Linked DNA regions of Homo sapiens: all the other regions are linked to region 3. Evidence: fine-mapped expression QTL. A gene starts in region 3. Each other region holds a variant in brackets. All regions are shown on one strand. Distances are between the middles of the regions. Region 1 has its middle 33 kb from the start of MYOM2. Region 2 overlaps KBTBD11 (kelch repeat and BTB domain containing 11). Region 3 holds the start of KBTBD11 (kelch repeat and BTB domain containing 11).

What was found. PIP is the estimated chance that this variant, and not a neighbour inherited with it, causes the effect.
Region 1: its variant is fine-mapped to the expression of KBTBD11 in skeletal muscle (GTEx, PIP above 0.99).
Region 2: its variant is fine-mapped to the expression of KBTBD11 in whole blood (TOPMed, PIP above 0.99).

Annotation. Positions count from the first base shown.
Region 1 is chr8:2,010,975-2,013,631 of GRCh38, forward strand. No RefSeq gene overlaps it. Among named protein-coding and RNA genes, the nearest start is that of MYOM2, 33 kb to the right of the region's middle. The variant A/G (reference allele first, on the strand shown) is at 1,060.
Region 2 is chr8:2,004,609-2,007,411 of GRCh38, forward strand. It overlaps KBTBD11 (kelch repeat and BTB domain containing 11), which reads left to right. Exons shown (of 2, transcript NM_014867.3): 2 at 1-2,328. Among named protein-coding and RNA genes, the nearest start is that of KBTBD11, 32 kb to the left of the region's middle. The variant C/G (reference allele first, on the strand shown) is at 1,649.
Region 3 is chr8:1,972,475-1,975,277 of GRCh38, forward strand. It overlaps KBTBD11 (kelch repeat and BTB domain containing 11), which reads left to right and starts at 1,203. Exons shown (of 2, transcript NM_014867.3): 1 at 1,203-1,461. KBTBD11-AS1 (KBTBD11 antisense RNA 1) reads right to left here and starts at 871. Exons shown (of 3, transcript NR_136275.1): 1 at 674-871; 2 at 66-189. All of the region lies in intron 2 of KBTBD11-OT1 (KBTBD11 overlapping transcript 1), which reads left to right.

The DNA of each region.
Region 1 (2,657 bases), 38 kb after region 3:
ACGCTCCTCACTAATGGTTGTGACTCAGTAGGTAAAACGCTGGCGGTCGCTCACAGTTCATTATTGCAGCTCTGTTTTCTGCTGTCTGTATAGTCTGGGACACGCCACTAAGCCTCATCAACGTTCTTAGTTTCATGTTCCTAAAATCTGAATCAGAGCAGTCCCCAGAGTGCTAATGAGACGGCTGTGTGGAGATAGCCATGGCAGAGTCCAGCCTCTGGGCCCGGAAGAGTCACTGCAGCTACTCCTTAAACACAGGGATTCTGTGTCCTGACATGAGAGATTCTCACGTGCTATATCCCGGATGCAGCCAGAGATGTGCATTTCAACAGGGAATTCAGAGGTGAGTGCTCGCATTGCCACGCTGTTAAAAACGCTATTGTAGGACCTCCCAGCAGGTGGCTGAATCTAAGCACGTTTAGGATCGCTGTCCGTGTGGAGCTCGCCAGGTGGTTGGTGTCCTCCCCACACGCTCTCCTGGCAAAGATACTTGTGGCTATTAACTTGGATCACCCCGAAGAGACTGTGGCTTGTCACAAACCCCATGTAGGATAAAAGAAGGCATTTAGGCATTGAAAACAAACCCTCTTACAGTAAGAGAATCCCAAACAGTTCCCAGGAACTGCAATGTGAACAGCCTGACCAAGCCACGGTGGGCTGAGGAAGCAGAGACTCCGTAGCACCTGAGGACCTCAGCCGCCCATCCTGACAGGTGCAAGTGCGCACCTGTAATCCCAGCTACTCAGGGGGCTGAGGCAGGAGAATCGTTTGAACCTGGGGGGTGGAGGTTGCAGTGAGTTGACATTGCACCACTGCCCTCCAGCCTGGGCTACAGAGTGAGACTCTGTCTCAAAAAAAAAAAAAATCTGGCTGAAATCTCCTTCTTGTAACTTTGCCTGTCACAAATTTAGCTTTCTAGTTCAAAATGTACTTGAGGTGAGGTCCCTGTGTGAATCACTGTGAGAGGATTTATGACTCCGTAAAGTGGGACACCCACGCTTAAGACGCTTACAGAGAGTGACAGAGGCGATGAGCTCATAGTAAAATAAAGCGGAGGGG[A/G]GTCCAGCCTGCAAGAGCGGCACCGAGTCCTCTAATACTTACTCGCAGCCAGGAGCCCGTAAGGACACAGAGAAGCAAGCCTCTAGCTGCTGGAACAGATGTCCCCAGCTCCAAGAAGCCACACAAACATCCTGTGTTCTCACGTCATCTTTGTTTGTAATCTAAGTATCGTTCTCACATGCACGACTGTCATTTCTAGGCTCACAAAGCAGATGATTAAGAGCAGAAATGCGGTGGCCACAGGGACACAGTAGGTTGTCCCGCGACGAGCCAGTGACAGGAGGAGAGGGAAGGAAAATGGCAGCTGGGGGTCCGGAACGCAGAGCAGTGTTTACTTTCGGCATCCAGTTTTGTGCTTGGTAAAGTCTTAAGGGCGGGAGGTTGATAATAGTATTATGATATTAACTGCAGATCATAAAACATCAAATTCTTTTTAGCATTCTTTGATCATGAGCCAAAGAAGATTTTATTTTTCAGACAAGTTTTAGGCTCACAGCTAAATTTAGAGGAAGGTTCAGAGTTGCCGTAAGTCGCCTGCCCCCAACACATATAGTGTAAACCCCACTGTAAACACCCTTGCCAGAGTGGGGCGTTTTTACATCAATGAACCTACAGCTCATCACCAGCCAGAGTACACAGTTTACATAAGGGCTCACTCTTGGTGTTGTGAGTTCCATGGGGTTGGACAAATGTGTAATGACATGGATCGGCTGCATCATTGCCAGAGCTCAATTGTAAGATCATATCATCTGCAAACAATGAGAATTTGACTTTTTGCATTCCATTGTGGATGTCCTTTATTTCTTTCTCTAGGAAAGGACCTTCAGTAGTATGTTGAATAATAATGGTGAAAGTGGTCATCCTTAGCCAGGTGTGGTGGCTTATGCCTGTAATTCCACCACTTTGGGAGGTCGAAGAGGGTGGATCATTTGAGGTCAGGAGTTTGAGACCAGCCTGGCCAACATGGTGAAACCCCATTTCTATTAAAAATACAAAACTTAGCCAGGCATGGCAGTGGGCAAGCTACTTGGGAGGTTGAGGCAGGAGAATTATTTGAACCTAGGAGGCAGAGGTTGCAGTGAGCTGAGATTGCACCATTGTACTCCAGCCTGGGTAACAGAGTGAGAATCCATCTCAAAAAACCAAAAAAAATTGGGAATCTTTGTCGTGTTCCAGATCTTCAGAGAAAGGCTTTCAGTTTTTCCACATTTATTGTGTTCCGCTTTTATTGTGTTGAGATATTTTCCATCTATACCCAGTTTTTTGAGAGTTGTTATCATGAAGAATGTTGAATTTTATCAAATGCTTTTCAAGCATCAATTGAAATGATCAGATGCTTGTTGCCCTTCATTCTGTTGAATGATATATCACATTGATTGATTTGCCTATCACAAACCATCCTTGCATCCCTGGGATAAATCCCCTTTAGTCATGTTGAATGTCTTTTTAATATATTATTCAATTTGGCTTGCTAGTATTTTGTTGAGGATTTTTGCATCAATGTTCATTGGGGATACTGGCCTGTAGTTTCTTTTTTTTGATGTGTCTTTGTCTGATTTTGGTATCAGGGCAATACTGGCCTTGTAGAATGAGTTTGG
Region 2 (2,803 bases), 32 kb after region 3:
CTTGAACCTTATGCATGACTCGGGGGCTGGAATTTATGATCTGGGTTACGGTATGTTCTGGGGACGTGTCTGCTTGCCCATGGTTACTCATGAACTGAGGGGATAGCTTGGCAACTTGGTTAATCATCTTGGGAAAGAAAAACAGACTTCATATCGCCTGACTTGATTGGCCTTTTATAGGAGTATACTGGAGAAATGGTTGTAGAAACAGTATTTACAGCAAAAGGAAACAAATAATGTTCATTTTAAGCAATGTACCATTCACACTGTCCTGCCTTTTCCTCTAGAATTTTATTAATGGTAGAAATTTTTATATGAAATGGGACCAGGACCAGGCTAATATTTTCAGTCCTTAAATATCAAACTCATATGCTGTTATCACTGTGATTTTACTTGTGAAATCATTCCTGTAATGTTTATTGTTTGAAAATGAAATATTGAAATTAGGCTTCCAGAGTAACACTGTCCCCGGAAAAGGATATGAGAAGTGGTGGATGTTGGATGGGGGTGGTTGCACAGTCCTGTGCGGTTCCCATGGCTTTCCAGCGTTTCATTTAGTGAAGGAATGCTCACACTAGATGTAGCACAGCTTCCTGTGGGGCCCGGCAGCAAAGCCCCAGGTGCTCCCTGTCACCTCACAACAAAATGCACTAAGAAACGTAAAGAATAAGAGGAATTAATACCCACCATTAAAGGATGTCCGGCCAACCTATTGTGGAAATTTATAGAATAGTATACACCACAGTTCTGAATAGTGATATCACATAAAAATACATACTAGAGGACCTGCCACGCCATGAGCAGTGTTTTTGCTTTTTGGGGGCCAGTCCCTGGGGTGTGGAGCCGCTAGGGTTTGCACCCATGAAACAGAGAAAAGCCACACCCTCCAAGGTGTGGCTTTCATTTTGGGACTGCTGCAGGGAGGGCAGAGGCATTGCTGAGACTGCCTGGCAACGGCTGATGCCCCAGGTAGGACCTTTTCCAATTCAAAGTGGTGTTCTAAGTCTGCGTCCAACACTGTGTAGGAAAAAGGTTGGTGCAAAAATATTCCTGGTCATCCACCCATTAAAATAGTTAGATGAGGCTATTGCCTTGATGACAGCTGTCCACACTCCTCATGAAATTAACCCGTATGCCGGGGCATTTCCAAATGTCTGACTCGTGAAATTAACCCATACGCAGGGGCCTTTCCAAATGTCTGAAAAGGCAGTGGTGTCTTTTGGGGAAAATGTTATGCATGGAAGCCTGACCTTTTGCTTAGTTGACAGCAATCCCTTCTGTATTGCCAATCAAGGTTCATTTGAGATGCAGAGGAATGAGCTTGAGCCTTCCTCCTTTTCCTTCCGGTTTTATTCTTCCTCTTGGGAACATCCCTCCACTCCGCACTGCTTCCTGCAGCTTTGTAGAGCTGGATTTGGAACTTCGGGATTTGGTTTCTGAGTCTGTGGAGGCACCGACTTCTGCTGTAAGAAAATGAATGTTGTGGAAATTCTTTGGCTACTTAACTAAAACTCGTGACTGTATAAGTTTGGCTACAAATAAGTAAGAAATTAATCATCTGCTCTGTTTCTGCTAATTTCTGGTGTCACTTCAGTAATTCTGGTAGCAGCCGTTGAATCTGTCAGTCTCTTAGGTAACTTCCTGTAAA[C/G]GATTTGGAAATAGGATGTTTTCAACGTTCTTTTGTCTTTTGCTGAAGTCAGGATAGATTCAAGACATAATCTCTTGTAAGATCTAAATAGAGCAAATGTAAACAAAAGTGCATTTTTGTATTCTTGTTAATTTTAGATGCTTTCCTAGCTTACAAAAAGTTCTGTTTTTGGGTTAAAAATCAATCAACTTTCTGATATTTCCCCTTCTGCAATGTTATTGTTCATAAGAAAACACGAGCTGAAAATGGAAATCTGCAGTTGTTTCAGTTGTCTTGAATTTCTTTCAGTGGCCACATCATTTCCACGTTTTCCACATCCGGGAGGAAGCCTGGACTGTGCAGCCTTCGGGCACCCGGCACAGACACTGTGCTGGCAGGAGCTTCAGACACGCCAAGTGGATGGATTTGGATTGAACGCATATGAAACAGGAGACGGGTTCTCATGTGAGATCAAAGCTCCTCCAAAGCCTGTTCAAGCTCTAAGCGATTCTCAAATGTTACCATTTATTAAAGGTAAACTACACCTGTTGAAGGCCAAGTTCAGGGCAGCTGTTGTGATCTGTGTAGTTAATGTATTTATTAATGCTTGACTTTTAAAATCCTGGGCATAAATAGTGCAGAGCCTCGTATGTTTGTCAGTTCATGCCGAGATGAAATAAATCACGCAGAAAGTGCCAGTCCTCCTGATGTGCCCCGAGTGCTTTTCTCTTTCTCCACAGCGAGCGTCAGATGCGGCTTTTTCTCCTGTGAATCAGGGAGCGTAGCTCTGCCTGCGGGACCCAGGGTTGACACGTCCTGCCCGTTAAGTGAGGAACTGCCCTCACCGGCTCCTGAAGCTCCCCTGGCACAGAGGTTCTAAGTTGGGGTGTCTGTTCCCACTCCCAGGTGCCCTGGATTCCTCGGTCTGCTCACGGGTCCCAGCGGGGGATCACGGCACACCACCTAGGACCTCGGGAACACCAGGATGGGCTGCACAGGAGCAGGTGGAAGCCGAGGCCAGCGCCTAGACTTTGGTTCCTAGGGAAGGCAGGTTGGGGGAGCTGCTTCGCTGCACTGGTTTGTGTCCTTCCAGTGGGCTTTGTGCTATCACGGTGGTCTCCAGTTGCCTGGTACCGGGCCCAGGGGTGATACAGGGCAGGGCTTGTGTGTGAGAGT
Region 3 (2,803 bases):
CAATGTACAGTGAAACCCTGTCTCTACTAAAAATACAAAATTTAGCTGGGTGTGGTGGTGCATGCCTGTAGTCACAGCTACTTGGGAGGCTGAGGCAGGAGAATTGCTTGAACCCAGGACGCAGAGATCGCAGTGAGCCGAGATTGCACCACTGCATTCCAGCCTGGGCGACAGAGTGAGACTCCATCTCTAAAAAAAAACAAAAGAGAAAAAGAAGTATTATTCTGCAGCCGAAAGGAAGTAGAGATGCACTAAGAAGATCACAGTAGAGTTTGGAACATTTTTGGAGTAAACTGAACAAAATAAAAACGGAGCAGCATGGGAATTATTTTAGCTTCCACCAAAAGGGTCTGTTTCTGCTATAGTTAACGGAAGTTTTCAATTTTCAAAAAATCCCAGTAGCTCGCTGAGTTTCAGCCTCCTGTAATTCAAGTACTGACAGCAGGTACTACTCTTCTTGGCAACAGAGTGAAAAAGGTTTTAAAGATGTTCCCGGGGCGTTAGCTTTGGTGCTGGAGTTGTAACGGCTCATTATGTGTATACAGCATGGAACTGGCAAAGACTGTCACAAGCAAAAAGAACACAAAAAGAGAAAGTAAAGGCTCTGGCTCTCGGTACTTATGGAAATCTCATCGTCATTAATTTGCACAAAGCCATTAAAAATAGCATTTACCAGCAGGGGTCCAGCGTTAATTAGAACCCAGCCTGGGAGCAGCTGGAACTCTCGGCGCTCCTGGCTCAGTCCTCGCCGCCCTGAACCCGTCTGCACCGCAGGGCCCGAGTGGGAGGCAGAGGCCACATTTCTGGATATGAGCAAAAGCTCCGACATTTCGTCCACTCTCGTGTTGTGAACTTTAAAAAATTCTGGAATCTGTTGAGAATTTGGCAATAAGTTTTTAACCACTAAATATGTCAACAACGCATCGCCTCTACTTTTACCAAAAAATAGGCGCACGAAACTCCGCTGTTTGCGCCCGCGGACACCTGTCCCCGCCTCCTCGCAGGAAGCGGCCCCCGCGCGTGGGCGCGGGCTCGGGCTCGGGCTCGAGTGGCGACGTGGGCCGCGGTCCTGGAGGGGGAGAAGCGCCCGGCGGGCAGGCGCGGGGCAGGGAAGCCCCGGGGAACCCACAGCCCCTCCGCAGACCCAGCCAGGGGGCGCGCGCCCGAAAACGCCCCGTGTGCACGCGCCCGCCCCCCTCCCCGCGCCCCGCGCGCGCCCCTCGCAGCCTGGAGCCGGAGCGCTGGCTCCGCGCGGCCTGGAGAGGCGGAGAGGCCTGTCCACCGCCCCCTCTGCCGCCCACGCCCCGCTGCGGGTCGGAGGAGCAGCTCCCGCTCGCAGGTGCTCGGAGAGGCCGGGCCGCGGCTCCCACAGGTGCCGGGAAGCGGCCGCGCGCATGCGCCGGAGCCCACCCGCCTGGCTGCGCGTCCCGGGCCCGGCGGCTGAAGAGGAGCCGCGGCGAGGTAGGGCGGACCCCGGGGAGGCAGCGGCGGGGCCTGGCGGGCGGAGCGGGAAGCAGCCCGAGGCGCGGGTCGGAGGGGGCGGCGGGTGGGAGGTGGTCGGCGAGAGCGGCAGTAGGCGGGAGGGGAGAAAAGGGGAGGCCGGCAGGGGAGAGGCGGGGAGGGGAGGCCGGCAGGGGAGGGAGGGGAGCGGAGCGGAGGGGAGGGGAGGGGGGACCGGGAGAGGAGGGGGCAGCGCTGCCCGCGGCGGGGTGGGCGGCGGTGGGTGGTCTCCGCTCCGCCTCCGGGAGGCCGCGTGGGGGGCGTGGGGGCCTCCTCGCGGGGTCTCCACAGGCCCTCCCCCGGGACGCGGCAACCCCGGCCGGAAGACAATGAGCCGCCCGCGCCGCGCCCGCAGTCACCGCCCCCGCCGAGGGTCCCGCCGCCCCAGCCGGCACGGAAGCAGGAGCAGAAGCCGAAGCCAAGCGCGCGGGGCCAGGGCGGGGGCTCCTCCCGGGGTTGCTCCGCTTGGCTCTCGGCGGTCGCGGGGATCGGCTGTCCGGAGCGAACGGGGGTCTCTCCTGGACTCGGGGCCCTGGGGAGGGGAGCGCGGCCCTTGGTCCTCCGCCGCTGCGCCCGGGGTGCGGGGGTGTCCTGGCTGCTGACCCCCGCGAGCCCCGAGCACCGCGACCCACCCGCCCCACCGCGCCGCGGCTCCCGAGTCCTGCCGGGCGCCCCTTGCAGCCCCCGCCCCATGTGCTGGGGAGACCCCCGGGCGGTCTGGGCGGGATTCCGCAGGGGTCCCTCCTCTCAGGCGGGGCTCATTCTGGAGCATGAAAAGAGGGTGAACCAAAGTCCCTCCACCTCTTTAGAGTCCTACAAAACCACGTTTCCCCCTCCACCCACTCCAGTGTCTATTCTAAGGAAAAGAAAAGGAACAAATCAGTGCAGCGAGCTTTATTCTACTCAGCCCACGAAAGGCGCCGCCGTCAGATTTTAAAGTTCCAGCCATCCCCTCAGGCCCTGAGTGAGAAGTTCGCCCGATTCCCCGCGGTTCCCGCCTCCATTTCCCACTAAGGAGCAGTTACTCAGGCTCCAATTAGGACCCCTTAATGGATGTCAATGGAACCCTTCAGCCTTTTATCCTGAGCTAATAGTGTGCTATTATTAGAATAATCCTCCCCATTCCTGACATCACGGAAGGGAGCGTTCCATTGCCTTCAGATTTGCTCCAGCAACAACCTCGTGTGTGCAGATTTATGGTAACTGGCATTGCAATGCTCCCATCAGGGCATAACTAAGTAAAAATTGTAATGAGGTAAAGCCTTTGAACTTTCCATGTCAGTTGCACAGGCATTGCTGGCCA